Homo sapiens: one gene and its partners. The protein of the gene in region 4 interacts with the protein of the main gene of each other region in a pairwise test. Each region holds a gene or a part of one and is shown on either strand. Other genes may lie near its edges. The genes, in order: MORN4, ACVR2A, DSCAML1 and MAGI2.

Region 1 (8,970 bases), on a different chromosome or scaffold from region 4:
GTGTCATTTTCTTTCTTTTATTTTTCTTTTCTGTCACCCACTGACTCTCAGATATTTAATTTAATCCACCTGCCAACTATGTGAAATACATATCTTATCTCCACTTTACAGATGAGGAGACTGAGATTTAGAGATACTTAAATACCTTGCCCATAATTATACAGTGAACTCATATTTGAACTCAAGTCCTCCTGTGCTCAGAGTCTACAACACCACCATATTATCCTGGGAGGCCAGATAGGATAGTATGGTATAAGTTAGCAAGTTACTGTAAGAACTTGTGCCAGCAAGGCCAGCTGTCAGAGCTCTGATTCTAACTTTCACGTGTTAGTTTCCACATGTATGACCTTAGTTAATTTACTTATCCTCTCTGCACCTTAGTTTCCTCATCCCTAAAGTGGAAATAATAATAATACCCACCCCAAAAAGTTGTTGTGAGATGAAATTAGATAATATATTTTAAAAACACTGATGCTCATGCCGTGTGCGGTGACTCACGCCTGTATTCTTAGCACTTTGGGAGGCCGCGGCAGGTGGATCACCTGAGGTCAGGATCACCTGAGGTCACCTGACCAACATGGTGAAACCCCATCTCTACTGAAAATACAAAATTAGCCAGGCGTGGTGGCGCATGCCTGTAATCCCAGCTACTTGGGAGGCTGAGGCGGAGGTTGGAGTGAGCAAAGATCGCGCCATTGCACTCCAGCCTGGGGAAGAATAACAGTGAAACTCCGTCTCAAAAACAAAACAAAACAAAAAACACTGATGCTCACACCAGTAATCCCAGCTACTTGGGAAGCTGATGAGGAAGAATCACTTGAGGCCAGGAGTTCGGGACCAGTCTAGGCACCATAGCGATACCCATCTCAACAAAAAATTTGAAAAGTAGCTGGGTGTGTTGGCACACACCTCTAGTCCCAGCTACTGGAGAGGATGAAGCGGGAGGATCACTTTAGCCCAGAAGTTTGAGACTGCAGTGAGCTCTAATCACAATCACACTACTGCATTCCAGGCTGGGTAACTGAGTGAGACCCCATCTCTTAAAACAAAACAAATAAACAACACTGATGGAACACAGTAAGAGGTCAGTAAATGTTAGCTTCTGTTATAAAGGTATTTCAGACAGCTTCTCTGGGGTTAGTGCAATTGATTATTAGAGAGGGTTGTGCCACCTGAATTGAAATATAAATAATCTAGCACTGTCCACCATGACAATGTGGAGAAAGCAAATTTAACATATGGGTTGTTTTAGTTGAACATTTAAAGCATCACTTTTGCATAAAATATACCAGACCCCTTTTGTGCTATGAAACTATGGAACCCACTCTTTGGAACTCCATCTTGACTGGATGAGGTTTTGGCTTCCCTGGGACTTGAAGGAAAAGGAAGCTAGCTGTTGGCGCCAGGCCCCCGAGATTTAAGAATCCCATCTTGCGGCCAGGCACGGTGGCTCATGCCTGTAATCCCAGCACTTTGGGAGGCCAAGGCGGGCGGATCACGAGGTCAGGAGATTGAGACCATCCTGGCTAACACGGTGAAACTCCATCTCTACTAAAAAATACAAAAAGTTAGTGGGGCGTCGTGGTGGGCACCTGTAGTCCCAGCTACTCGGGAGGCTGAGGCAGGAGAATGGCATGAACCCGGGAGGCAGAGCTTGCAGTCAGCCGAGATCATGCCACTGCACTCCAGCCTGGGCAACAGAGTGAGACTCTGTCTCAAAAAAAGAAAAAAAAAAAAAAAGAATCCCGTCTTGTTTTGAGCTGGGAGCAGTGGCATGCACCTGTAGTTCCAGCTACTCAGAAGTCTAAGAGGGGATTGGAGGATCTCTTGAACCTAGGAGTTCAAGTCCAGCCTGGGTAACATAATGAGACCCTGTCTCTAAAAGAAAAAAGAATTCTTTCCTGTTTCTCCACCAGGTCTGGCCCCAGTACTCTGAGGAGAATGTGTCCTTGTCCTGTTGGAACTCAGTCAGATGCCTGAGGGTCAGACTCTAGGTTACTTATTAATCAGAGGGGACTTTTTTTTTGGAGGGGGACAGGGTCTCGCTCTGTCACCCAGGCTGTAGTGGCACTGTCATGACTTACTGCAGCCTCAGACTCCTGGGCTCAAGCAATTGTCCCTGCTCAGCCTCCCAAAGTGCTGGAATTACAGGCATGAGCCACCATGCTTGGTTGATAGAGGACTTTTCAATAGTGATTTATAGTTCAGAGAACTTTTCACACACAGTATTTCCATTTATTGTAGCAGTAGGCCACAAGCTTTGAAGTAAGGATCTAATGATGTGCTTATTAAAACTGCAGGTTCCCAGGCTCTGACTACAGAATCTGATTCAGTAAGTCTGAGTTTGGGCCTAGGAATCTGCATTGTCAAAATTACTGGAGAAAACATTGTATTGCTTAGATCTGGAAAAGATGAGGAGGTAGCTAGATGTGGTAGTGTGCGCCTGTAGTCCCAGCTACTCAGGAGACTGAGGTGACGGGATGCCTTGAATCCAGGAGTTTGAGGTTACAGTGAGCTATGATCGTGCCACCGTGCTCTAGCCTGGGTGACAGAGCAAGACCCTGTCTCTAAAAAATAAATAAATAAATAAATAAATAAATAAATAAATAAATGAAAGATGAAGGGATGAATGAAGAGACCTAGGGAATTAAAAAAGAAATAGGGCTTGTATTTTTTAGTCTATCAAATGACGTACTATTTGCCTCTGTTTATATTTAATGATTTTGGGGGGTATCTTAATTCCCTCTTCTTCTTCTTCCGTTTTTTTTTTTTTTTTTGAGACAGGGTCTCCCTCTGTCGCCCAGGCTGGAGTGTCGTGGCGTGATCTTGGCTCACTGCACTTCTGCCTCCTGGGTTCAAGCGATCCTTCCACCTCAGCCTCCCAAGTAGCTGGGACTACAGGAACGCACCACCACACCCGGCTAATTTTTGGATTTTTTGTAATTTTGGTACAGATGGGGTTTCACCATATTGCCCAGGCTGGTCTCAAACTCCTGAGCTCAAGTGGTCCGCAAGCCTCAGCCTCCCAAAGTGCTGGGATTGTAGGTTTGAGCCACCGTGCAGTTCCCTTCTTATAGAATATCCTTCAATACATCCTTTCACCACTAATGTGAAGCCATATCTAGCCAGTCCCCAAATGTTACTGATTGTTTTCCTATGATGTATCCCCCCAGTTGTTCCTTCTGCTCCCATTATACTGTGATCTCCCAGACTCATGCCTGAACGTATCAGTTAGCTTTTTCTGGGTAATAACACACCACCAGAAAACACAGTGGCTTGAAACAATAACCATTTATTTATCCTGTGAGTCTGTGGTCGCTAGTTTGGGGCCGGGCTCAGAAGGGCAGTTCTTCTAGTCTTGCCTGAGCAATTTGTTCATCTGTGGCCAGCTGGGACAGGGTCTCACCATCCAGTAGACTAGATTGGACTCATTTACATGGGGGCAGAACAGGTCCAAGTGTAGCAAGAGGGCAAGCCCAGTGCACAGGTGCTTTGCAGACCTCTGCTAGATCACCTTTGCGAACATTCCATTATCTAGAACAAGTCACACAGCCAACCCAGGTCCAGCAGGTGGAGGAATAAATAAACTCTGCCTCTTTTTTTTTTTAGACAGAGCCTCACTCTGTCGCCCAGGCTGGAATGCAGTGGTGCGATCTTGGCTTACTGCAACCTCTGCCTCCCGAGTTCAAGCAGTTCTTCTGCATCAGTCTCCCGAGTAGCTGGGATTACAGGCACCCGCCACCACGCCCTGCTAATGTTTTGTATCTTTAGTAGAGACAGGATTTCTCCATGCTGGCCATTCTGGTTCAGGTGATCCACCCACTCCGCCTCCCAGAGTGCTGGGATTACAGGCGTGAGCCACCGCACCCGGCCAACTCTGCCTCTTAATGGGAGGATCTGCCTTGTCACATTGTAGGGTCATGAACGGAGGGAGAATAACTCTGCCCATTTTTACAATTTGCTTCATTATCATATTTCCCTTCCTTGCAAGCTTTTCTGACTATGGACTTGCTGCTCCAATTCATCCCACTTCGTGCTACCACATTCATTTTCCTTACACACTGCCTTCATATTACATCCTGGTTCACAAACCCGCAGAGGTCGCCTCTTTTCCTCCCTCATATGCTGTAAACTCTTATGCCCAGCTTTCAAAGGTCTCTTTAAGTTAGCCTGAGCTAAAAGCAGAGGCTGTGCTGTACAGGAAAAAAGGACTAGCATAGTCAGGGGAGGCTGTCAACAAACTTTATTACCTCTCTGGGCTTCTATTTCTCCTATAAAATGAGAGGTTGGGCTAAATCCATGAGATTCTTTTCAGATTTATTTATTTATTTATTTATTTATTTATTTCTCGAGACAGAGTCTTGCTCTGTCACCCAGGCTGGAGTGCAGTGGTGTGATCTCAGCTCACTGCAACCTCTGCCTCCTGGGTTCAAGCAATTCTCCTGCCTCAGCCTCCTGAGTAGCTGGGATTACAGGTGCCCGCCACCACACCCGGCTAATTTTTGTATTTTTAGTAGAGATGGGGTTTTACCATGTTGGCCAAGCTGGTCTCGAACTCCTGACCTCGTGATCCGCCCACCTCGGCCTCACAAAGTTCTGGGATTACAGGCATGAGCTACCACGCCCGGCCTATTTTTTGTTTTTTAATTTTACATTTTTGACATGAGGTCTTGCTATGTTGCCCAGGCTGGTCTTGAACTCCTGGGCTCAAGTGATCCTCCCACCTCGGCCTCCCAAAGTGCTGGGATTACAGGTGTGAGTCACTGCACCAGGCCTCTCTTCAAATTTAAGATTGTGGCTACATGTACCTACACAGGCTTATTTCCTAATACTCCCCAAATAAACCCTCAACTGTAATGAGACCAGGCTTCTTATTTTGCCATGGAACATCTCGTGTTCACATTGCCCTTAGAGTGTTCCTTGCCCTTTGAGTGTTGGTTCCCCATATTTTCTTTTTTTTTTCTTTTTTTTTTTTTTTTTTTGAGACAGAGTCTTGCTCCGTCACCCAGGCTGGAGTAACAGTGGTGTGATCTCAGCTCACTACAACCTCCGCCTCCCGGGTTTAAGTGATTCTCCCGCCTCAGCCTCCCAAGTAGCTAGGATTACAGGCTCCTGCCACCACGCCCAGCTAATTTTTGTATTTTTAGTAGAGACGGGGTCTCACCATGTTGGCCAGGCTGGTCTCAAACAACTGACCTCAGGTCATCCCACCCACCTCGGCCTCCCAAAGTGTTGGGATTACAGGCGTGAGCCACTGCCCCTGGCCTGTTCCCTATGTTTTCTGATTCTGGAATTGCTCTTTGCCTTCTCCACTGCTTGTCTGCTTGTTTTAAATTCTGGCCATCTCATGTCTTTGTTAATCTCTGCCATCCAAGTTGGCACTTAATCACATTATCTCTGGCATAATTCAGTGTTTAAATTGTTAGTCTTATTAACTAGATTATAAACTCGTCAAGGGAAGATACTGTATTTTATACATCGACTGAGCACATAGTAGGTATCAAATAAATATTTGTAGATTAATATTTGTAGATTTCCATCCCAGGTCATAGAAAATAGGAACTGGCTGAAAACTTTTAAGATAAGCAGGAGGATAAGAGCACTTGGGCAGAGGTGGAGATGATGGTGCTGGTGGTGGTTGGAGATAGGGGTATTTTGGTTAAATGCACCTAAGGCAGTGTACACTTACCAGGCTGGTGGCCTTTAGAATGTATCTATAAAATTGCCTTGCAGTCCTTTCCTCCCGCCATTCCATGACACTGGTTCTCCTTTGCTTATTTCCTACAGTTTCATCCTTTTATCCTGTAATCTGTCACCATGACCCTGACAAAAGGTTCCTTCACCTACTCCAGTGGGGAGGAATATCGTGGCGAGTGGAAGGAGGGTGAGAAGGACCCCTGGGGAGTATCCATGATGAACACTTCATTTGCTGGAGGACAAATACATCAGGATATATAGCCAACTTTATGGATCTTCATTTTCAACTCCAGGATTTAATTCCATATAGTGCCTGCCATTCCTTTATTCCATTTTAGGATTAAATAAAGGAATTTGAAAATGCTATTGTTAATTCAACCTCCAGGAATGAGTTATATCTTTCTTTTTTTTGCTTCTGTTTTTGTTTTGTTTTGTTTTGTTTTTTGAGATGAGGTCTCGCTCACTATGTTGCCTAGGCTGGAGTGCAGTGGTGCAATCTCAGCTCACTGCAACCTCTGCCCCCTGGGTTCAAGCGATTCTCGTGCCTCAGCCTCCCAAGTAGCTGGGATTACAGGCGCCTGCCACCACATCTGGCTAATTTTTGTATTTTTAGTAGAGACGGGGTTTCACCATGTTGGCCAGGCTGGTCTCGAACTCCTGACCTCAGGTGATCTGCCCACCTCGGCCTCCCCAAGTGCTGGGATTACAGGCATCAGCCACCATGCCCGGCCCATGCCAGCCTCTCTTCTAAGCATTTTGTATTTATCATCTTATTTAATCCTCATGACAACCTTATGAGGTAGGCACATACTATTATTATTCCCATTTAACAGATGGGGAAATTGAGGCAAGGAGAAGCTAAGTAACTTACTCAAGATCACAGAACTCTAAGTGGTAGAACAAGAAGGCAAACACAGCAGGCAGCCTGACTCGGTGTCCTCAAAATCTAACTACATTGCCTCTCTGAGGAAAAAAAAAAAAAAAAACAACCAGTATCCATTTAGCACCTTAAAGCTACTGGGCAAATCTAACAGCCTGATTAGCAGCACTGGTTTCAGCTTCATTATAACAACAGGGCTGTGCTTACTCTCTGAACTGACCAGAAAACAGAGCAAGATGTTGCAGGAGTAATCATGCCTTTCAAACAGAATTCAAGGGAGTTCTTGTGGTGGATACAGCCCACCCAGCAGAGCCTCAGGAAGTCTCTCCTCTAACAGTCCGCATTAAAGGGGACACCAGGTATTTGAAAGCCAGGAAGAAATGCCTGGGATTGGAGGAGCCAAGGTCACATCACACCTGTACAATTTCTCTCAAGGCTCAAGAATTTAGGGCAGGCACAGTGGCTCATGCCTGTAATCCCAACACTTTGTAATCCCAGCTACTGGGGAGGCTGAGGGAGGAGAATCATTTAAAACCAGGAGGCGGAGGTTACAGTGAGCCAAGATCGCACCACTGTGCTCCAGCCTGGGCGACAGAGTGAGACTCTGTCTCAAAAAAAAAAAAAAAAAAAAAAAAGAAGAGAGGCTGGCACATAGTAAAGGCACTATAAATACACATGTTAGCAATTGTTATTTATTTATTTATTTATTTATTTTGAGATGGAGTTTTGCTCTTGTTGCCCGAGCTGGAGTGCAATGGCATGATCTCGGCCCACTGCAACCTCCACCTCCCAGGTTCAAGCGATTCTCCTGCCTCAGCCTCCTGAGTAGCTGGGTTACAGGAGCGCGCCACCACCATGCCCGGCTAATTTTTTGTAGTTTTAGTAGAAACGGGGTTTCACCATGTTAGCCAGGCTGATCTTGAACTCTTGACCTCAGGTGATCTGCCCGCCTCCTCGGCCTCCCAAAGTGCTGGGATTACAGGCGTGAGTCACTGCGCCCAGCCAGTTGTTTTTTTGTTTGTTTGTTTGTTTTTTGAGACGGAGTCTCACTCTGTCGACAGGCTGGAGTGCAGTGGCGCGATCTCAGCTCACTGAAACCTCTGCCTCCCGGGTTCAAGTGATTCTCCTGCCTCAGCCTCCCGAGTAGCTGGGACCACAGGCAGGCGCCACTACACCCAGCTAATTTTTGTATTTTTAGTAGAGATGGGGTTTCACCATGTTGGCCAGGCTGGTCTCGATCTCTTGACCTCGTGATCCACCCTCAGCCTCCCAAAATGCTGGGATTACAGGTGTAAGCTACCGCGCCTGGTCAGCTGTTGTTATTTTTAAGTGCTCTCTTATTCATACTTGGGTAGACCTGCTTTAATCTGTAGTGATAAGATGGGAAGGCCCCAGGAGCCAGGTTTTCCCAGTGCCTGACTCTGGCTAATAATCCTCTGCCCTGCTAATGTCACTGCTTCTCTTGTTTTCTTTGTGGGTAGGGTGATGGCAGGTAAGGGATGCTACAAGAGTAAGAAGGGACCCTGAAGCTGCCTCCTTCCAACCTGACACCTATCCTTCTCTTTGTTCAGGCCGCAGGCATGGTTTTGGTCAACTGATGTTTGCAGATGGTGGCACCTACCTGGGTCATTTTGAGAATGGGCTCTTTAATGGCTTTGGGGTATTGACCTTCTCAGATGGTTCAAGGTGGGTATGAGGTCATTCCTTTCTTAGCCTTAAATAAGGGAGGGTCTGACAGAAAAATGGGACTCTGGTAAATATCTGGTCAATCCTGACCTTGTCTCACTCCCTGCAGAACACAGATGAGTAATAAGTAGTTCTTTTATTAGCTATTTTTTAAGTGGACCTAAAATTTGAAATGTCAACCAAGTGAGTGACTTTCCACCCCACTCCCATTCACATCCTATCTTCTTTCCTTGAGATCAGGGCTTCATGTCATATATACTCTCTGCTCCTTGGGAATAGGTGGGGTAGGTGGAGCTATGTGACTGGTAGAATCGGCTTGCTCCTTAGCATCATTAAATAACAGAGATCAGCAGCTGCTCGACTCCGTTCATCTGGACAGCTAACTTTCCACTGAAGGCTAACTTCTTGGTGTTTCTGCAGGTATGAGGGGGAGTTTGCCCAGGGCAAGTTTAATGGCGTCGGAGTCTTCATTCGATATGACAACATGACCTTTGAGGGGGAATTTAAAAATGGCAGAGTAGATGGTTTTGGTAAGTTGCAGCCCAGCAGGATGGCTGACTTAGGTGGGCATAATATGGGTGGAAATATACCTGTTTAGTTTTAATCCTGCGGGTGTCCAGCAATCCATAGTGGCCGTCCCTGACACCTATCCATTGAACTCATCAATAGAGTACTCCTGAGTAGAGCTGGGAGTTTTTCTCTTCTTT
Region 2 (8,264 bases), on a different chromosome or scaffold from region 4:
CCTCATTCTTGCAGTTGTCAAGGTGTAAGCCTCACTGTAAGTTACAAAGCTACCACTCCCCTCTTTAAGAACACATAGCTTAGGATTGCCTTGGCGATGTGGGCTCTTTTTTGGTTCCATATGAACTTAAGTAGTTTTTTCCAATTCTGTGAAGAAAGTCATTGGTAGCTTGATGGGGATGGCATTGAATCTGTAAATTACCTTGGGCAGTATGGCCATTTTCACAATATTGATTCTTCCTACCCAAGAGCATGGAATGTTCTTCCATTTGTTTGTATCCTCTTTTATTTCCTTGAGCAGTAGCTTGTAGTTCTCCTTGAAGAGGTCCTTCACATCCCTTGTAAGTTGGATTCCTAGGTATTTTATTCTCTTTGAAGCAATTGTGAATGGGAGTTCACTCATGATTTGGCTCTCTGTTTGTCTGTTGTTGGTGTATAAGAATGCTTGTGATTTTTGTACATTGATTTTGTATCCTGAGACTTTGCTGAAGTTGCTTATCAGCTTAAGGAGATTTTGGGCTGAGACGATGGGGTTTTCTAGATATACAATCATGTCGTCTGCAAACGGACAATTTGACTTCCTCTTTTCCTAATTGAATACCCTTTATTTCCTTCTCCTGCCTAATTGCCCTGGCCAGAACTTCCAACACTATGTTGAATACGAGTGGTGAGAGAGGGCATCCCTGTCTTGTGCCAGTTTTCAAAGGGAATGCTTCCAGTTTTTGCCCATTCAGTATGATATTGGCTGTGGGTTTGTCATAGATAGCTCTTATTATTTTGAAATACACCCCATCAATCCCTAATTTATTGAGAGTTTTTAGCATGAAGGGTTGTTGAATTTTGTCAAAGGCTTTTTCTGCATCTATTGAGATAATCATGTGTTTTTTGTCTTTGGCTCTGTTTATATGCTGGATTACATTCATTGATTTGCGTATATTGAACCAGCCTTGCATCCCAGGGATGAAGCCCACTTGATCATGGTGGATAAGCTTTTTGATGTGCTGCTGGATTCGTTTTGCCAGTATTTTATCCAGTTAGAATGGCAATCATTAAAAAGTCAGGAAACAACAGGTGCTGGAGAGGATGTGGAGAAATAGGAACACTTTCACACTGTTGGTGGGACTGTAAACTAGTTCAACCATTGTGGAAGTCAGTGTGGCGATTCCTCAGGGATCTAGAACTGGAAACACCATTTGACCCAGCCATCCCATTACTGGGTATATACCCAAAGGACTATAAATCATGCTGCTATAAAGACACATGCACACGTATGTTTATTGTGGCATTATTCACAATAGCAAAGACTTGGAACCAACCCAAATGTCCAACAATGATAGACTGGATTAAGAAAACGTGGCACATATACACCATGGAATACTATGCAGCCATAAAAAATGATGAGTTCATGTCCTTTGTAGGGACATGGATGAAATTGGAAATCATCATTCTCAGTAAACTATCACAAGAACAAAAAACCAAACACCGCATATTCTCACTCATAGGTGGGAATTGAACAATGAGATCACATGGACACAGGAAGGGGAATATCACACTCTGGGGACTGTTGTGGGGTGGGGGGATGGGGGAGGGATAGCATTAGGAGATATACCTAATGCTAGATGACGAGTTAGTGGGTGCAGCGCACCAGCATGGCACATGTATACCTATGTAACTAACCTGCACAATGTGCACATGTACCCTAAAACTTAAAGTATAAAAAAAAAAAAAAACATAGCTAAAGAAAAACTGCATATGCAAATCATACCGTATTCATTTTTTTATTTAACTTGGGGATGGAATGGGGATAGCATACATTTTATTTGTACAATATTTAACAATCACTTATCCAAGGTGGGGTTTTATGGGGATTTTAAGCTTTCTGTTAAATACTTGCAGAAAAAATAGCAAGTACGATTTGACAGTAGTACAATAACCTGTGCCCAAAACACAAGAAATACAGAGTAAAGCGAAAATAACTGCTTACCAATATTCTGAGAGGTAACAAATGGGATATGGGTTGAGACTGCATAAAAAACGTACTGCTGGTTGAATATCTGAGGTAAATGATGTTCAATCAAGATGCTACTTGTATCATTTTGCCCATAAATGGATAAATAATTTTATGCATATCATACCAAATGTTCCTAAAAAGTAATCTTTCAAAAAAGTATAAAAGAGAAACTGGAAAGTATCTGTGATGAAGCTTCTTTCTTTAAAAAAAAAAAAAAAAACAAAAAAACCAGTAATCAGTTTATTCCACTAAACCACCATCTCGCCATGGTTTTTTTTCCCCTACCACCTGCATTTTACTTAAATGTAGCTGTTACTTAGGGGTGAGGAAATGCAACAGAAGAGATTCTTTTTAAATTTCATGATATGATTCTATTTTAAATTCCAAAGGTGTTGGGTTTTTTCCTGATTGTATTTTCAAAACATCACCATGAAAGATAGATAGTGCAAGTTCATGGGACTAACAATCGTGAAGCACAGTCTCTTTTTCTGGAATTCACAAGGTACCTAGAATTCAAACAAGAATCACACATCACATGCTAAAAAAACTTCTAGCATCTAAAATACATACAAGAGCTGTGCAGGGCATAGACTTCAAATAAAGCCGAACACTGGTTAATCCATCAGTCCTATGGCAAGTTGATCATAAAGCATTCCTTACGCGGAGATCTGGGCAAGGTAAAGAGTATAAGTTAGAGCAGCAGCAGTTCTGATGGGTATCAGAAAGGCAAAATACAAGACGAGTCATGAGGAGCACCATACACATGAGGAAAGAGTTATTTGGGGGGTCTCAGTTTGCCCCAAAATGGATCACCATTTTTCTCATTCTTTGATCTTTTTTTTTTCCAGTATCTCTAGCTCAAACTTTCTGTTAACTTGCCCACTCTGCACTGACTGTAAACCAAACACTAAATACCCTGCAAAAGAAAGTTTTAACAAGACTAGGTATAAGGACAGGTAGTCACTGGAACATTCTTATTTTACTGCTTATAAAAAGTTTTTCTATTAATAATAGTTCTCAAAAGAATACAAGTTTTAAAATTGGTTAGCTACAGTTAAATACAATACCCAGGATTTCTAAAAATTTTTTCTAACTTGAAAACATTTTATATTGTGAATAACTGGGTTTAAAAATTTTATCTCTAGTACTCACATAAGCCAAACATTCATCATAATATCCCTTGTTTATTTTTGTTTAACTTTTAAAAAGAAAGTTAAATGTTCACAACAGGTAGAAATTCATCTTCAGGAAATTAATGATTTTCTTGTATGCACATTCTCAATATTTTCCCTTCTTGATTAGTTTTTAAATGGAAGCAAAACCAGATCAAGAAATTGAGAGACCAAGTACTTTGTGAAATAAAGAGGTGAACTCAACATTGAAAAGGGAATTGCTAGGAATACAATGAATGAGACCATGGGGACACACGTGACAGTTCTGAATGGTCTGCAGCACACAGACGCTATTACTCTTCTTTTCCTCCCTGCTTAAAGTCTGTTGACCTATGTATTGTTTATAAATAACATAATTAATTTACTATTCCCAGAGATTACGTACATATATGTAAAATGTAGTGTACTGTGTGGTTAAATAACCATTTGAAGACAACACATTCACAGTGAGCTCCTGACAGTGACATGTAAAAAATTCTTTTATAAAATTAACATGGATTTTAAAATGACCTGACAGAAATACACAGCATAATACTGGCTATTTGTTGATTAATTGATTGGTAATCTGGAAATTCAGAAAATTAATGTTTTACTTTTTGGCCTGTATAAATTTGAGGAAGAATCCAATTGTATTCTAACGTAATATTGTTTTGAAAAGCACTTTAGCACCTGCCTACCATCAATTCCATTTTCTTAGCAAGGATAAGGCATGAACTATCCTAAATTAGTATCAGTGTTAGTTGTAAAAGCAATTTTGGGGAGGAGGCTAGGCTATGCTACCTATATCAACATTGGTTACCTCTAAATGTCATTGCATATTTTAAGTTATACGTTTAATTTGTTATCCCTGATTTGTTTTAAAGCAGTAACATCTGAAATCTGCTTAAAGTTTAATATCTTTATCCTAGGATAATTCTTTACATATCACAGACATCAAATATTACTCTGACAAGATGGCACCAAGCAGAAGTATAGTGATAAAGTTACAAGTCTCATAGCAGACAGTGGGGAATTCTGGGTAACGACACTTCCTGAGGTGATCCTAAAACAGTGATAAAGAATGTCCCACACACTGTTTGGTGAAAAGAAATACACTACAATTTTACATATATAAATAGAAAAAACTCTATTTTAAAAGATAAAATGAAGAGCTTTCCAGTGTCACAGCTCACTTTAAAAAATTTTAAATCATGCTTTAAATTTTCAAATATTCCCCAAACACAGCACACCTAAAAAAAATACTTAGGTAAGTATGCAAATTTTGGGAACTGGATATAAGATGGGGCTTTAAAACATGGGAAGAAGGGGGAAATGACACCATCTTTTCAAAAAACAGCACTTTTTTTCCCTACATTACAAGCCAGCACAAGAAATGCTAAAACACTGCTTTACGAATGGCCACTTATTGTTGGCACTAAGCATAGCTTACCTTTTTTTCCTTAAATAACACAGTGAATTTGTTACAAAACATGGATCGATTTATTATTCAAATTTTGTTAGTGTTTTCAATTTTATAATTTAGCAACCGTGGAACTGAGGTATACCTTGTTGAGGGAGGTTAAAGTAATGCTTGGAAGCCTCTTTACTGTACCCCACTTTGATGACTTTATGTACACAGAACAGCAGCACACTAAACATTCACAAGCTGTGTCATATTGGCATTACAATAGTCATTTATAGAAACAACAGCAAATGCAATAAAAACAAGTTACCCTTTTTAAAATCTGAAATGAAAAGTTTTTGATTTAAAAAAAATAGCAGTAGTTCATTTAAGGAATTAGTGTCTTCTGACAGACATTAAGAAATCTGATGTCAGTTTTCAAACACTCCATTAGCCAGGTCCAAAAGATCCTTGATTTGGAGAGGGCTACATTCTTCATGTACACTTTTTCAAAAGTTTCTTTATAGAGTTTGCAAGGTTTCTCTTAGTCTCATGTCCTTCACATCTGTGCTGTCGGCAATGCAGTAAGTCTCCCAGAGCAACATTTTTCAACAAAGGGTCTTCTTTCTTAACATTTCCAAGAGACATCCTACTCATTTTACACAGAAAATAAACTGTAAGCAGTTTCTTTAGCTTAGCAGCTCCAGTTCAGAGTCCCATTTCTTAGTGTGCACAGATGGCGCAACCATCATAGACTAGATTCTTTGGGAGGAAAGTCAACATTTGTCACCATTGTGACCACTGTTACAATGTCCTCTGTGGTAATAATATTTGTTAGTCTCTGCATCTGGGTAATTCTTTCACCTACACATCCAGCTGATAACCTGGCTTCTGCGTCGTGATCCCAACATTCTTCAATGGTTTCACAGAGCATTGCCATTCCCTAAAAGGAGAAAAACATATACTCAAACGCCACAGCAGTTTTTGTTTTCTATTAGGAAACAATAAAATTTTCATGAAGAAATGGCTATTTTTCTGGGTCAAAGAAGTTTCTGTCAACATTCACTTTTATTGACTACCATGTGCAGAATCATAAAGAAAAGCACAAACAGAACTTTTTTTTTAAGCATGAGACTATCACAAGAGGAATTTTTTTAACTCCAAAAAAAAAATCTCTATCCCTTGTTCATAACCCAGGTCATTTCAATGCTAACCCTTCAAATGGACTCAAAAATCAAGGATAAAGGGGACCTACCAATTTTTATTGTTTTCTTAGTTAATATCAGCATTTCTATCTTACAATTAAACAGAAGATCAGAAAGCCACCCTTGGGATTTCTCTACCTGGTTTTAGCCAGGTTTCTAGTTATATTTAGACTGAAATAACCAGGGCAATACTGTTATGTGCCTGGTCTCTATAGTTTTAAAGCACTATTAAGACTTGAAAGTCTAAGCCGAAATTAAAAGGCTACAACAAACTCCCATGGAGAGGAGAAAACATGGTGCTTCATAAACTTTTTAAAATGTTGTCATATTGGAAGTGGTCATCAGCAAAGTTACCCAACTATCCACAGTTTCCGAGTCTGGCATGCCTTTTCCCTGGGAAACTTTCTAAATAGATGACACAATCTTCTGCACAGGACCATTGAGACAAAAGCCCTCTAAAGCTCTATTACTTTACAATCACCTTCAGGGGTATACAGACATAGCCCTAATTCTGCCTCTAGAACTCTAGAATATCCTGTGTGAAGATCACCTTCCAGAAAATACTTGCAGAAGAAAGAGAAATGTGCAGAGATAAATAATTCCTCTGAAAAGTGTTTTATTGGAATTTCAAATGAAAAGCTAACTGGATAACTTACAGCATGTTTCTGCCAATAATCTCTTAAAACAGGCCTCTTTTTTTTATGCACAACAACTTCCTGCATGTCTTCAAGAGATGGATGCTGGCCAATTTCCTCCTCAAATGGCAACATGTATTCATCTACAGGTCCTGAAAAGTAAGAAAAGTAAAATAAATCATTTTCATTAAAATCCTCCTGACTTTCAAACTGGTACAAACTTTCTAAAATATACTCTGTCACCTATTCCCAACTGTTTACATGCTATGAGGACAGAAGAGAAACAGACTCTCAACTGTACTTATACCACAGTGTGACCAAACTAATGTATGGGAAATGAAAAGGCCTATAATTTGGCATGTAATTCCCTTAAAGATTGCATAAGGGGCTTTCTTATCTAGGTATAAAGGATGCCTATTTCCATCTGCACAGAGGACATAAGGAACAATCAGTATTTGTAAATTAACGTTATATAATATCCCTTTAAGGTACCCATTCCTTACAATTCAGATCAGAATGTTAACAGTGGTGCTTCCAGCTCTGGAGGCTCTAGGTTCAATCTATTATAACCATGTTTATTCTATGGCATATCCAAACCCCCTGCATGCCCCACATGAGGAATTATGCACCTCAGAGTCATACCTCTTCTCTACACTCCCTCACAACAGCTGCCAAAAAGTACATGTTTATTTTTTAGAAAATCACAAACAGGCTCTCCAACTAGGGGTCCCAACAAGTCAGGATGTGCCTTCATAGACAACATTAAACAACATAAATAATTCCTTTTTTCTTAGGCCTACTCAGATAAATAGAAAATTGTATTTAGGAGTTAATAATAACTAACATCCAGTAAGCACCTATCCTGATCAGAAACTTTACATATATTACTTACTTCACAGGGTTAAGATGGCAGTACCTCTATTTACTGATAAGAAGCTCAGAAAAGTTACATAATTTGCACAAAGACATACAGCTGTTAAACGGTAGAGCTGGAATTGAACCCAACTCTCTAAATAACTCTGAAGTCTGGTTTTAATCACTGGATTGCCTTCCTTTGACAGACACAGGTCACCACTGAGCAGTATCAGTGACCAGATAGATGTATGTGTGCATAAACACAAATTTTGTGAAGCTCTTGAAATGCACTAAATACTCCTGGGTAGAATACAATGAATCATAAAGGGGTCATCTAACTTAACCCTCTTCAAATATAAGAATTATCTATGGCTGGACAGTTGGTCTCTGCTTGAGTACTTCCAGTGACAAAGTACCGACATTCTAAGGTGTCTATTCAACACTTATGTGGTGTACAGGCCAGCAACACTGCCGTCAACTGGTAGCTTAGCTTTTAAGAAATGTAGACTCTCAGGCTTCAACCCAGACCTACTGAGTCAGAATCTAAATTTTAACAAGATTCCTAAGAATCTGGTATGACACATTAAAGTTTGAGAATTACTTCATTTAACAAACAAGTAACCATCAACACACGTGAAAGCACCTACTTTAGCAATCAATGCTCACACTATCCTCTCTACCCCAATTTCTGACTTAACAATTGGGTTCTGACTTAAGAGTCAGAAATGCCTGACTCTGAAATTATTTCATGGCATTTAAGAAAAGTCAGTATCTAGCCTTTTCTTTTTCCAAAAGAACTTCTCTGAAACCTCTCTTCCCCATAAACAAAGCAATTTCTCCCCTAAACTCCTAAAACACATGCTTGTATTTCTTAAGTATTGCACTAACCCAGAAACATTTATTGAATACCTATGTACTGGGGAATGGGCCAGACAACTCACACTTAACTTACTCTAGAGTTAATTGTCCAGGATATATTTTATTGCCCTAACTAAACTGTATATTA
Region 3 (4,915 bases), on a different chromosome or scaffold from region 4:
CGTTCCGTCCTCCCAGAGATGGAACGAAGCTGGGCTGTCACCAGGTGTCTGGAATGCAGAGCTTTGGTTTTCAACTGATGCCGTTAGCTGCTTCTCTTGGCTGGGTCCTGGGTGTGGGGGCTGAGATGAGCATTTCTTCATGAGCCTAGGAATACCGAGGCGTACGGAATCTCTGCCCCTCCCCTCTCACCGTGCCGACCCGGGAATCTAGTTATTCATGCGAGGGACTCCTCTGCATCCCACACACTCTAGGTGCTCAGAGAGAATTTGTGGGATGAGTTGCTATTCGGAAGATGCTTCTATGAAAGGTCATGCATCCCAGGTGCGGCCTCACCGGGGCCCAGGCTGATAGGTATCAGCTGCCTGCATGCACAAACTCCTCCCTCCTTCTCCAGCCCTTCCCAGTTCCTCCTCTCAGCTCCTAGGGAGCGGTGGGTCCCAGACTCACCTTCCTTCCAGGTTCCTGATCCACAGCTCAGCCTCAATTGCAGTGCTCAAGAGCCCCCTGTGCACTTCTTAGGTGCACTTCCTTTTCACCCAGGGGCCAGTCACCTGCTTCTGCCTCTCCAAACCTTCAAGTCCCTGGAGGTCCATCTCACCTGTCACCTCCTGTGATGCCCTCTGGACCCTCTCATCAGAAACCAGGCCTCTGGACACCCACGGCACCTTGCCTGCTCCTCCGTGTGGACGCCTTTTCTTCCACTTGGCTGACTCCTTGGAAGCCAGGTGAGGTACCTGATGTGCTGACCTGGTTCTCTTTGGCTGAGCTCCATTCCCTCTCCTTCATGAGCTTCTCTCACTCCTCTCACCTCCGACGACTTCTCTTCTTCTCCCTCTGGCCTCATCTGGTCCTAAGAGTCAGCCCAGAACTTTAGGCCTTGGCCTGGTGCCCCAGCTATAGATAATCTCTTCTTCCCCGCTCCCGATAGGCACCTCTTTCACAACTGTGGGCTATTGGTCTTGTATAGTCCTGGCCCCCTGGCTACCCTGCACTCTCTTGGAGGAAAGAAGCCAGTAGGCAACCCCTCCCCTATCCCAGGCTCCCCAGCGCTTGGTGAGCCAAGGTTGCCTCATTCCATCTGCTACAAGCTTCCCTCCGTTTACAGGTAAGGACACTGTGGGTCAGAGGGGTTTAGGAGTTTGCACGAAGCCACCGACCTAGTTCCCCTTGCGGGCCCAGCACAGCTCTGAGAACAGAAGAGGAGGCACCTTGGCTAATTGCAAGCCTTTAAAAGTCTTAGAGCACTGAGCCAAAGCCCAGGCTTCTCACAAAGTCTCTTTATGAGAGACAGACGGCCTGGGGTCGGGCTCTCTCCTCCCTCCCCGCTGGCCTTCGCCAGATGGGAAAAAAGCCACCACATAGAAACATAACCTTTATTGCACACGGCGCTGGGTCTTTTTTCATAGAAAAAGGTATTAACACATAAGCATCTGCAAATTGAAGCAACTCCTGGTTTTCTTGGAACAGTAAAATCGCATGCAGTGTCTCTGAGTTGGGATTTTGGTCTTTGTCAAAACCACCTAGACTGGGGGGAAGGTGAGGAGGAGGGAAAAAAATTGCTGAGTCTTTGTGCCTCTGTCTCAAAATAGGGTGAGAGAAATATATAGATATATAGCTCGTGGACGCGTTCCTGTCTGTCTATATATGTATATATATCTCCACACATATTTTGTGGGGTGGGGGATTTGACTTGTACTGTCAAATTCTTTGTGCCCTGGCTTCATGGAGAAGAAGAAAATAGTTTCATTTGTACAAAAGAGTTCTATGTACAGGCGTTCATGATTGGGGGTTTTTGTTTTGTCGTTGGTTGGTTTTTGTCTGTCAGTTGAATATAAATAATGCAGAAAAACAGCCGAGCTGGCGTGTGGGGCTGCGGCGCGGCGCGGTCCAGGCGTGGCTGCTCTTCCTGCGGGCCCTACACCAGGGTGTAGGATTTGGAGTAGGCCCCGGCCCCCTGCTTCTGAGACCTCCCTACCCCCGATGTGCTCATCTCGAGAAGCGAGTCCCTGGAGCCCCCCATTTTGGTGTGTGGGCCCCCGGCTCGTGGAGGCTCGGTGCTGGGGGCCGGAGGGGCAGCGCTGGGGGCGGTGGGTGGCTCAGCAGGGGTGGGGCCGGGGGCTGGGGGGGCTGTGCCGGCTGGGGGGGCTGGCATGGCCAGAGTCCTCTGAGGTAAGGTGGCTGTGGAGGCGGCAGCGGGGGCCCCTGGGTGGGGAAGGCCCAAGGACTTGCTGGCAGGGTCCAGGGTCAGGTGGCGAGCCTGGGTGTGGTAGGTTCGAGCCAGGTTCCGGATGGAGGCCTCACGGGGTGGGACCACGGGGCAGGGCTCACGTCCATCTGCCTTTCGAAAGAAGGCCTCTGACTTGGCATACAGGGGCAGGTTGCAGTAGTCACCTGGAATCACAGAGGCAGAGGATGTTACAGAGAGTCATAGCCCTCTGGAAGCAGCTCGTTCAGCCCCCACCCCATCCCCTGCCCCCAGTCTTCTCTCTGATTTGGCATAGGGGCCCCTCCACTGGGGGGCAATAAAGAGTAGCGGAAAGGTCGGGTACTTGGCCCTTCTGAGCCTTCGTTTCCTTATCTGTGAAGTGGGGATGATCTTACTTCCCCACAGGATTATTGTGAGGAGCGAATGAGGTGAGGGAGGTAAAGTGCTTTGCTACAGTGGCTGGTGCAGATAACAGCTGCCCAGTACATGGATGCTTGTTGTTCAATGGTCACTAGAGGCTGGTCAGCTTCCGGTAGTGGAGAGCTCACTACTGCTAAGGACGAGGATGTCCTAATGGCTCTGGCTGGTGGAAAGCTTTTCTTTACCCTGAGGAGGAAAGGAATATCATTCCCTGTCGCCTCCCCACCATGGAGCCTGGTTCTGTTCTCTGAGGTCTCACAGAGTAAGGCGTTCCCCTCTTTCCCATGGCAGCCTTCCAGATGTTTGAAGTCAGCTACATGTCCCCTCTCCTCCCCCTCGGTCCCCTCTTCTCCAGGTGGAAAGTTCCTAATTTCTTTTTTTTTGAGACGGAGTCTCGCTCTGTCATCCAGGCTGGAGTGCAGTGGCATGATCTCGGCTCACTGCAACCTCCGCTTCCCGAGTAGCTGGGATTACAGGCACGTGCCACCATGCCCAGCTAATTTCTGTATTTTTTTAGTAGAGATGGGGTTTTGCCATGTTGGCCAGGCTGCTCTGGAACTCCTGATCTCAGGTGATCCGCCTGCCTTGGCCTCCCAAAGTGCTGGGATTACAGGCATGAGCCGCCGCACCCAACCTAGTTCCTTATTTCTTAAACTGCCTCCATGTGACTTGCTTCTAAGACCTCCACCGCCTGACCCCCCGTGCTCCATGGGCACCCTGCCTGCAAATGGGCCTCTTCCCCCGGGGAGCTGGGCCAGGCATTTTCCTTAGATTTTCTTATTGAATCCTCACGACAGCCCCTAGGATTGGTTAATACCTGTCTGCACTTTACAAGTGAGGAAACTGAGGTTCAGAGAGATTAAATCATTTGCCTAAATTTGCACAGCTAAAAGGGGTGGGGGTGTCATTCAGGGTCACAGTCTCCACAGTCTTTCCATTGTTCCAGGCTCTTCTTTCCATGACCCAGAAAGCCCCGCCCCCTGCCTCAATTAGCATGGCCAGTGCTAAGCAGACCAGACTGCATTGTTTGATAGTCTGGGCTTTGCACGCTGTGACCCCAGCATCTGCTGATAGACTCCCCCTGCTGATCCTAGCCCTGCCCTGCCAGCCTCTAAGGGCATATGCTCCGGCCAGGCCCGTGGGGTCAGATGGTTCCCAGCCAGGCCAGGTCACTGCCTACTGAGAGGTATGACCATGGTGGGTGGAGCTGCCAGGATTGTTTGTTTGGGTCTGGATTAAATTCAAACAGCATTGAGACCAGAGGCCCTTGGGCAGCTGACCCTGAAGGGATCTGTTTCCATCCTGGCACAGCTTCAGATTAAGGGGATGCTCACTACCGAATGAATGAGGCCTTACAACACGCTGGGGATGTATATCATTTCTAATGCCCATTATGACAATGCAAAGTAGATACTATCGTTGGCATTTTACAAATGAGAAACTTAAGGCCACAGAGGTTAAATGACTTGCCCAAGGCCACAGACATAGGAAGAGGTTAAGCCAGGATGTGGGCCCTGATCTGCCTGCTCCTAAGTCCTTGCTGTTGGTACCACCCTGCACTGCCAAGGAGCCAAGCTGGGCTGGCATGATCCTGGTGCTGGCAGAACTAGATCTAGCCAGGGCTCATGGGGCTGGGGCCAGGGGGCGGGGGGGCACTGCCTGGGAGGTGGTCTGAGCACTCACTCTTGTTGGCCCGGTGAGGGATGGGCACAGCCACGTTTTTGCCCCGGTCCGCATCCTGGGGCTTGGGTGGTGAGGCGGTAAAGCGGCAGATGCCAGGCTCTGAGGGTGTGCTCATGGATGTCATGCTGTCGGCGTTCTCGTTGGTGCCTGTGGTCATCTGGTCAGAGGAACTGTCAGAGATGAAGCACTCGGTGATCTCAAACTTGGCGTGCTGCAGCTGCTCCTCCAGCTTGGCATGCTCATAGGCCCGGGCCAGCTCCTCGTAGGTGGAAGAGGCACTCTCAGTGGACACCATGCTGTTCCTTCCTTTGTCTGGGGAGTTAAGAGGAAAGGGGTGGGTTACGGGGAGGAGGGTATAAGTGAGACTGACTGAGCACTTCCCCTGCCCGTAACCCCAGCAGCCATCTGTAAGTCTGGCCATGGAGGGCACCAGGCTGAGAAGATCCCGTGAAGGTGGCAGTGGTGGCAGAAGTAGGATCTTTGGCTCATGAAGGGCAGAACACCTTTCATTCTTGAAAATAAGCAACCATCCCCTGGAACATTCAGCCCTTTCTCCAATGAACATCATGTGTACCATTTTCTCTGACAGTTTTTGGGAAAGCAAA
Region 4 (8,970 bases):
AATTAGCCAAGACTTTTGGAACATTTTAGTGACCCTCCAAGCCTAAATACTTGCTATGTTTTGAAGAAACTTTGTCTAGCAAAGAGTTTAACATCCTTACATCATAGACTGTGAAAAAAAAAAAGGAAATTAGGTATTGCAGATCAGAATGCAGATCAGAAGGCTGGGCATGGTGACTCACGCCTGTAATCCCAGCACTTTGGGAGGCAGAGGTGGGCAGATCACTTGAGGTCAGGAGTTCAAGACCAGCCTGGCCAACATGGTAAAACCCCATCTCTAGTAAAAATACAAAAATTAGCCGGGTGTGATGGTGGGTGCCTGTAGACCCAGCTACTTGGGATGCTGAGGCAGAAGAATCACTTGAACCCAGGAGTCGGAGGTCTCTGTGAGCAGAGATGATGCCACTATACTCCAGCCTGAACCTTAGTGTTTGAAGTGTGTGTGTGTGTGTGTGTGCGTGTGTGTGTGTGTGTGTGTGTGTGTGTGTGTATTCCATGTACCTAAAGATGCAGAACAAATTTGTTGTTCACTGGGGTGACTCCCACACTAGACTGAAGAAAAGCAAAGCGAGACTCCTTCTTAAAAAAACAAAACAAAACAAAAGAAAAACTTCACAAAAAGCAACATTGGACAATTCATATCTCTGAAACTTATTGGTGTTTACAAAATCCAGCTAATCAGATTTGACAAGTTTAGGGTATGTCACTAGATTAATCTGTGGGTTTCTATAGCACTTATTATCCTCCACATAGCAACACAAAATACTCATATAAGCAAAAATACTCACTTGTAAAATGCAAAATGTTAAAAATGTATGCAATTGTTTTTGTATTATTTTTACTCAGACATTCCCTGTGATCTATTAAGTGACAATGTAAAGTATAAACAGTTTTTGTGCTACACTTGATCCATGGCAATATAAATAATTCAATTTATGCTGGAATTGGGAAATTTACTTTTTAACAAACATCTTCAAACACAATGTAATATAAAAATAGATTTTTAAATATACATTTTGATTTTTAATTAAATAGTTTTGTTTCTTTCTGCTTCATTTCACAGAGTCACTTAATAAAATCCATGGTACTTACAGAAAAATTCCTGATGTCATATGCATGTGTTTCACTATAAGGCAGTTATGAGGTTGATAAAATTTCTTCTACAAATTTTTTCATTAGACATACGCAAATCAATAAACGTAATCCAGCATATAAACAGAACCAACAATAAAAACCATATGATTTTCTCAATAGATGCAGAAAAGGCCTTTGACAAAATTCAACAACGCTTCATGCTAAAAACTCTCAATAAATTAGGTATTGATGGGACGTATCTCAAAATAATAAGAGCTATCTATGACAAACCCACAGTCAATATCATACTGAATGGGCAAAAACTGGAAGCATTCCCTTTGAAAACTGGCTCAAGACAGGGATGCCCTCTCTCACCACTCCTATTCAACATAGTGTTGGAAGTTCTGGCCAGGGCAATCAGGCAGGAGAAGGAAATAAAGAGTATTCAATTAGGAAAAGAGGAAGTCAAATTGTCCCTGTTTGCAGATGACATGATTGTATATCAGAAAACCCCATCATCTCAGCCCAAAATCTCCTTAAGCTGATAAGCAACTTCAGCAAAGTCTCAGCATACAAAATCAATGTGCAAAAATCACAAGCATTCTTATACACCAATAACAGACAAACACAGAGTCAAATCATGAGTGAACTCCCATTCACAATTGCTTCAAAGAGAATAAAATACCTAGGAATCCACCTTACAAGGGACGTGAAGGACCTCTTTAAGGAGAACTACAAACCACTGCTCAATGAAATTAAAGAGGATACAAACAAATGGAAGAACATTCCATGCTCATGGGTAGGAAGAATCAATATTGTGAAAATGGCCATACTGCCCAAGGTAATTTATAGATTCAATGCTATCCCCACCAAGCTACCAATGACTTTCTTCACAGAATTGGAAAAAAACTACTTTAAAGTTCATATGGAACCAAAAAAGAGCCTGCATTGCCAAGTCAATCCTAAGCCAAAAGAACAAAGCTGGAGGCATCACGCTATCTGACTTCAAACTATATTACAAGGCTACAGTAACCAAAACAGCATGGTACTGGTACCAAAACAGAGATATAGACCAATGGAACAGAACAGAGCCCTCAGAAATAATGCCGCATATCTACAACTCTCTGATCTTTGACAAACCTGAGAAAAACAAGCAATGGGGAAAGGATTCCCTATTTAATAAATGGTGCTGGGAAAACTGGCTAGCCATATGTAGAAAGCTGAAACTGGATCTCTTCCTTATACCTTATATAAAAATTAATTCAAGATGGATTAAAGACTTAAATGTTAGACCTAAAACCATAAAAACCCTAGAAGAAAACCTAGGCAATACCATTCAGGACATAGGCAGGGGCAAGGACTTCATGTCTAAAACACCAAAAGCAATGGCAACAAAATCCAAAATTGACAAATGGGATCTAATTAAACTAAAGAGCTTCTGCACAGCAAAAGAAACTACCATCAGAGTGAATAGGCAACCTACAGAATGGGAGAAAATTTTTGCAGTCTATCCATCTGACAAAGGGCTAATATCCAGAATCTACAGTGAACTCAAACAAATTTACAAGAAAAAAACAAACAACCCCATTAAAAAGTGGGCAAAGGATATGAACAGACACTTCTCAAAAGATGACATTTATGAAACCAAAAGACACATGAAAAAATGCTCATCATCACTGGCCATCAGAGAAGTGCAAATCAAAACCACAATGAGATACCATCTCACACCAGTTAGAATGGCAACCATTAAAAAGTCAGGAAACAACAGGCGCTGGAGAGGATGTGGAGAAACAGGAACACTTTTACACTGTTGGTGGGACTGTAAACTAGTTCAACCATTGTGGAAGTCAGTGTGGCAATTCCTCAGGGATCTAGAACTAGAAATACCATTTGGCCCAGCCATCCAATTACTGGGTATATACCCAAAGGATTATAAGTCATGCTTCTATAAAGACACATGCCCACATATGTTTATTGTGGCACTATTCACAATAGCAAGGACTTGGAACCAAGCCAAATGTCCAACAATGATAGACTGGATTAAGAAAATGTGGCACATATACACCATGGAATACTATGCAGCCACAAAAAAGGATGAGTTCATGTCCTTTGTAGGGACATGGGTGAAGCTGGAAACCGTCATTCTCAGCAAATTATCACAAGGACAAAATACCAAACACCGCATGTTCTCACTCATAGGTGGGACCTGAACAATGAGAACACATGGACACAGGAAGGGGAACATCACACACCTGGGCCTGTTGTGCAGTGGGAGGAGGGGGGAGGGATAGCATTAGCAGATATACCTAATGTTAAATGACAAGTTAATGGGTGTAGCACACCAGCATAGCACATGTATACATATGTAACTAACCTGCACGTTGAGCACGTGTACCCCGAAATTTAAAGTACAATTAAAAAAAGAAGAAAATTCAACATAGACAAAATCTCTCTTTGCACTATAAAGGTTTATTTTTTTCTTCTGTAACATATCTGTGTTTGGGTATATCCAATGATATATCCAAAGTATAGCAAGTATTTAGGCTCAAACTGCCATGGTTTTGACAGTGATTTTTTTTTTAAAGTAAGCCAAAATAAATAAAAATGGCATAAAACCTCATAAGGATTCATGTAACGATTACATGGAGAAATTATTTCCCCAGGTAGAGCAAGCCATCTAATTATTTCAAATATTGAAACAAATCTAGCCATTCATATAAATCACCCACTCATTAGCCTAATGGATCTTTGAAAGTATATCAATGGGGGTTGGGCGCAGTGGCTCACACCTGTAATCCCAGCCCTTTGGGAGACCGAAGCAGGTGGATCACGAGGTCAGGAGATCAAGACCATCCTGGCTAACACGGTGAAACCCCATATCTACTAAAAATACAAAAACATTAACCGGGCGTGGATGGCGGGCACCTGTAGTCCCAGCTACTCAGGAGGCTGAGGCAGGAGAATGGCGTGAACCCGGGAGGCGGAGATTGCAGTGAGCTGAGATCACGCCACTGCACTCCAGCCTGGACGACAGAGCGAGACTCCGTCTCAAAAAAAAATAATAAATAAGTGAAAAAATAAAAGTACATCAATGGGATGCAATTGAGTTAATATTCAATAACTTATCAAAGAAGGAAACTTTTATTGTTTCTTCCAGACCACTCAAAACAGTCAACAATATATATTAAACTTAACACAAATTTTAACTTTTTTAAAAATATCTCAATATGAAGTCCTTTTAGAGTTGACAAAGATGTCAGTAAGACGTAATAATAAAAGCAATTTTTATTAATTATCTATGATGATATGGACATTGTACTATGTATGTCCCTATGCAAGTCTTTAACAATGTAAATTCAGCAATTATTATATTACTAAGTTTTCTATATAAGATAATTTACTTTTATTAAAGGAAATATAACAAATACTTACTAGAGACAGAAGAGAGCTGAGAATAGAATGGAGTAAGTAATAATAAAGTCACTAAACTAAGGCAGTTGTATGTTTGTTGTCATAATATATAGCCAGATTATAGCTAGGAGAGATTTTTAGAAATTAATACTGAACCCTGGAGCTTCAAGGTAGATGTTTCCATTGAACTGTAAAATAGGATTAATTCAACGAAAATGCTAAAATTATGGGGAAGCTAGCAGTGGAAGTATTGTTGGTTGCTTCACCTTGTAACAGTATTAATACACAGACTTACTTATATTGCATTTCTTTCATACAAAGTATGAAAATACTATAAAATAGTATTTTAATAGTACTATAGTACGTTAATAGTATTTAAATAGTATTTAAATTTAATGGTATTTTAACAGTACCATAAAATACTATAAAATAGTATAGTATAAAATACTATAAAATGCAATACAAATAGCCTTTTAACTTATTTACATTGCAATACTCACAAATGCAAAGTATTATTTTTGCTGAATTTGATGCATTTCCTCTTTATTATACATTGTTGACTGTGAACACTTAAGAGTTAACTTTTATTATTGTTATTCTTTATGAGGTGCTTAATTTCTAGCTGAGAAGTAAAAGTTCAACAGCATGATACTTACTCTTAACTACAATGATGTATTAATATAAGAAGTATAAACTCCTAAACTTAATAAATTCTAATAGGATTTCTATGTTGTCAAGTTTAGAGTAAATAATTCAATATATTCAGCAATTCTTTGGGAGTAAAGATATGCGGTATGAAGAAAACAAATTACTATGTAAAAATAAACTATGTCTAAAGTATAAAATAAATATAAAATAGCAGATGTTTACACATAAAGGGAGGATCAGTGGAAGTTATTTTTAAAAAGTGAAAATATTTTCCATTGTATTTATTGATATTATTCTTCAAATAAATTCTTTTCAAATAAAATATTTATTTCATTCTGCAAAAAAACCTTAAAATACAACTTGCAAAATACTCTATATTAATGTCAATCATTTCATATTTTTCAGTTAATTTGAATTGAGTAAAATATCTTGAAAATTAAAAACACCTCATAATGTCACTAGCTCAAAATGACCAATATGTTTGCAATAGCATTTACTAAAATCTACATAATGCTTATCACCTGCCAGACACTACACACTTTAAATACATAACTTATCTAATATTCTTAAGGTGCCATTACTACCCCAGGTTAGTTATCTTGTACATATAGCTAGCACTAACTGACATACTCAGGAATTAAAACTAGGTGGTCTACTTAGGAGACTGTACCTTTAACCATTGCTCTACCCCACCTTCTGAGGAAAATGATTCTGCCAGGGTCTGTATGTATTTGAAAGTCATTAATTAAACTATAATCAATCAGAGATGTCAAATGTGAATATGCTTTTCTCATTATGAAAGTGAATTTGTGAGTTACAAGCAATGAAAAGGAAAGTGAGCATAATAAACATGCCAAAAGATTAAACAGTGTAAATGTTAAGAATAGGGACAGTACAGATAAAAAGCAAATAATCATATTTAACATTCGAGGTCATACCATTTAAATTATCTACATGTACCAGAAAACTACAGTGGTATCACTTATAAATTATGCCCCAAGAGAACCGTCTCATTAACCTTGTTCAAAACATTAATGGTACTTTATTTCTAAAATAATAAACTGATCAAAATGTTTAAACAATGTTTTGTTTATTAAACAACACTATTCATATACCTCACATTTCTACAGAAAAAAAGTCAATCTTTATTTTCAGAAAATTTGACATAATTTGTTTTTACCTTTTCAGATACAAAGGAGTATAGAGATCTGACTCTATTATTCTAAGCCTGAAGTCAGTCAAGAAGAAAGTATGACTCTTAATAAATGTGGATCTACTTTCCTTTGAAGGTATCTTTGAAAGGAGCAGTAGGAGGGAGAGCAATGTAGATCTTCTCTAAAACTGAATTTCAAAGGATTTATTTGGCCCATCTTCCACATGGGAAGAATTAGAATTTTTTTTTTTTTTTGCCTTTTATTTCCCATTGTGAGACCCTAAATGGGAAAATAAGTCCAGGTTATGTAGGTCTCTATGTGGTATTAGATGCAATAGCAGCCATAGTGCAAGGAATGTAGGCCACAAAGGCCTGTGTAACTGGCTGCTGTGAACTTTAGTGGCAAACCTTAAAAAAGGGAAAAGAAAAAGGAAAGAAGACCTTTAGCACTTCCATATAGATCTCAACATCACTCAAAAAACTTTCTTCAACTGGGTCTGATGCATTAACGAGATCATAGAATTACTGCTAATTTAGAATTACATACTTTGGTGAGGAAAGTTTATTATTACAAATAAAATGCCATAGTTTATAAAAAAGAATTGGATGTGACAATAAGCCATATTTTAATATGTGGTTTATTATTGTGTGGATTAAAAGCAGAAAGCTTAAATTAAAAAGATAATTCCTTGAATTTCATTAAACAGTTTTAAAAATTGTTTTGCAGGTATTTAAACAGTGTAGAAACACTGTGAGATATATACATATATATATATATATATATAATGTCTTAAAATCCCAACATTTTAAAAGGAGCTCACCTCCTTTTAAAATTATGACAGATGAAAATTATGATAACTGTAATGTAAAATTAGGCAAACAAGTAAATAAAATTAAGTAAATAATGCAATTTTACCTGGTGCACTTATTAACAATATTCTTATTATTCAAATCTTACCTTTTCTTTATAAAATCTTCCTTAAACTATGATAATTCTTGTAGTTTCTGTATAATACCCAATGTCTGAATGAATATTCAAAAATCAGTCTCATTAATGTTTTAAAAACGCAACTGCTAAACAAACCATGTTTAAGTTTTTCAGCTATGCTAGCTTTTGCATCTCTTGAAACATAACTACTGGGCCAAGAGTTTCTAAATGATTTTCCAGTAAATGACATCTGTATTGAAACCTAAGACACACAGGCACTATAGTAAAGGTTCTGAAAAATTTCATTTTTTATAATCATAAATAAAATTAATCTATGATTTGACGAGGAAAAGAATTATTAGAATAGCAACATGAATCATATTTAAAAGAATATACAAGAGAATTAATTATTCCACAAAAGGTAAAAGAAATATTTTGTTTTGTTTTGTTTTTGGTCAGCAGTGGTTCAGGAGATGAACCAACTGTGGGCTCTCTGGCTATCATTATACAAATTTATCATCAATGAACCAGTGAAGCACGAAACTGAGGGTTAATATAGAATGAAAAGAGACTTTCCCCTCAATATATCACTTTAGAAGCATATATTCTGAGTTCTAAAAGCAATAATCTTCCACATAAAATTCAATACAAGAGTGATCTCCAACCACATTAGATCAAATTATGGCAAGATTCAAATAATATCTAATCCAGGTCCTCATCTTATATAGGAATCCCTGGCATATGGTCATTTCAGCCTCTTCATGGATACCCACAATGATGGGAACTTCAGCCAACAGGGTGCTCACAAATTTTTGGAAAACTCTGTTAGAAAGCTCATGATTTAATGAAAGTAAAGCTGCTTCATCCTTTCAAATTTCTCATAGATTTATCACCATTTTGTCCTGTGGGCTATCACAGGATAGTCAGAATTCCTTTTCTTACCTGATAGCTTTTCGCTATTTAATGATAGCTTTCATTCTTTCACTTCTCCACGTTAAGTCTTTCCACGGCATTTCATAGAATACATCTATAATACACAATAATCTTCCTTTATTTCTCTTTTGAACTTACTCTTTGCTAGCGTGACAGTTTGCCAACGTCCGCCTCAACAAGGAGTGCTCAGAATTGAACACAACATTTAAGATGTGATGATCATTGCAAACTATAATAGGGCATCCGTTTGTGGGACTCTATTAAGTCCAATTTAACAACGCTTAACTTTTGCAGCCACGTTCCATGACAAATATCAAGCATTTGGCCAACAAAACCATGGTCATTAGTTGTGTAGTAGACTTTTCGTACCCAAAGATCTTTCCATTTATGTCTATTCCTATAAGGTGGTATTTTGACATCGAACATGTTAACATGAATCTCTGTATTTGAACCTTAGGTATCTTATCTTCAAAAATATCAAGTTACTCTATTTTCCTTCCTACCAAACTCATATCCCTTCAGTGTTAAATAGTATGGAGCTATGTTGACTTATAATAACCTATCTCAATTTATTACCTCTTAATACTCAAGAATACCCAAGGAAAACATTTTCTTGTATGGCAATTTACATTTAAGAAACCTTGCCCAGTACTTCTTTTTATCTTGTTTATTTTAAAACAAGTTTTTTAGAGAATAATTTAACAGTGCGGTACATCTCCGTAAAAGCATTTCTTAGTAGTTGATCATGATTAAGCGGCAAAATGCAGGTAATGACATGCTCAATTCCACCTTTGAGTCAGGACAAACAGTGTACATCGACGACA

Evidence for each region.
Region 1: the proteins of MAGI2 (region 4) and MORN4 interact in binary tests that used the Homo sapiens proteins (3 or more experiments, as listed by UniProt).
Region 2: the proteins of MAGI2 (region 4) and ACVR2A interact in a two-hybrid assay, tested with the Homo sapiens proteins (one study listed by BioGRID).
Region 3: the proteins of MAGI2 (region 4) and DSCAML1 interact in a two-hybrid assay, tested with the Homo sapiens proteins (one study listed by BioGRID and IntAct).

What each region holds. Positions count from the first base shown.
Region 1 is NC_000010.11:97,616,501-97,625,470, reverse strand, and holds part of MORN4 (MORN repeat-containing protein 4), read left to right. Parts: intron 1-5,787; 5' UTR 5,788-5,817; coding exon 5,818-5,884; intron 5,885-8,148; coding exon 8,149-8,263; intron 8,264-8,683; coding exon 8,684-8,793; intron 8,794-8,970. UniProt on the Homo sapiens protein: Plays a role in promoting axonal degeneration following neuronal injury by toxic insult or trauma.
Region 2 is NC_000002.12:147,924,322-147,932,585, reverse strand, and holds the end of ACVR2A (activin receptor type-2A isoform 1 precursor), read right to left. Parts: intron 6,556-8,264; coding exon 6,425-6,555; intron 5,507-6,424; coding exon 5,312-5,506; 3' UTR 1,764-5,311; downstream 1-1,763. UniProt on the Homo sapiens protein: On ligand binding, forms a receptor complex consisting of two type II and two type I transmembrane serine/threonine kinases.
Region 3 is NC_000011.10:117,426,412-117,431,326, forward strand, and holds the end of DSCAML1 (cell adhesion molecule DSCAML1 isoform 1 precursor), read right to left. Parts: intron 4,623-4,915; coding exon 4,311-4,622; intron 2,393-4,310; coding exon 1,917-2,392; 3' UTR 1,361-1,916; downstream 1-1,360. UniProt on the Homo sapiens protein: Cell adhesion molecule that plays a role in neuronal self-avoidance. Promotes repulsion between specific neuronal processes of either the same cell or the same subtype of cells.
Region 4 is NC_000007.14:79,442,829-79,451,798, forward strand, and holds part of MAGI2 (membrane-associated guanylate kinase, WW and PDZ domain-containing protein 2), read right to left. Parts: intron 1-8,970. UniProt on the Homo sapiens protein: Seems to act as a scaffold molecule at synaptic junctions by assembling neurotransmitter receptors and cell adhesion proteins. Plays a role in nerve growth factor (NGF)-induced recruitment of RAPGEF2 to late endosomes and neurite outgrowth.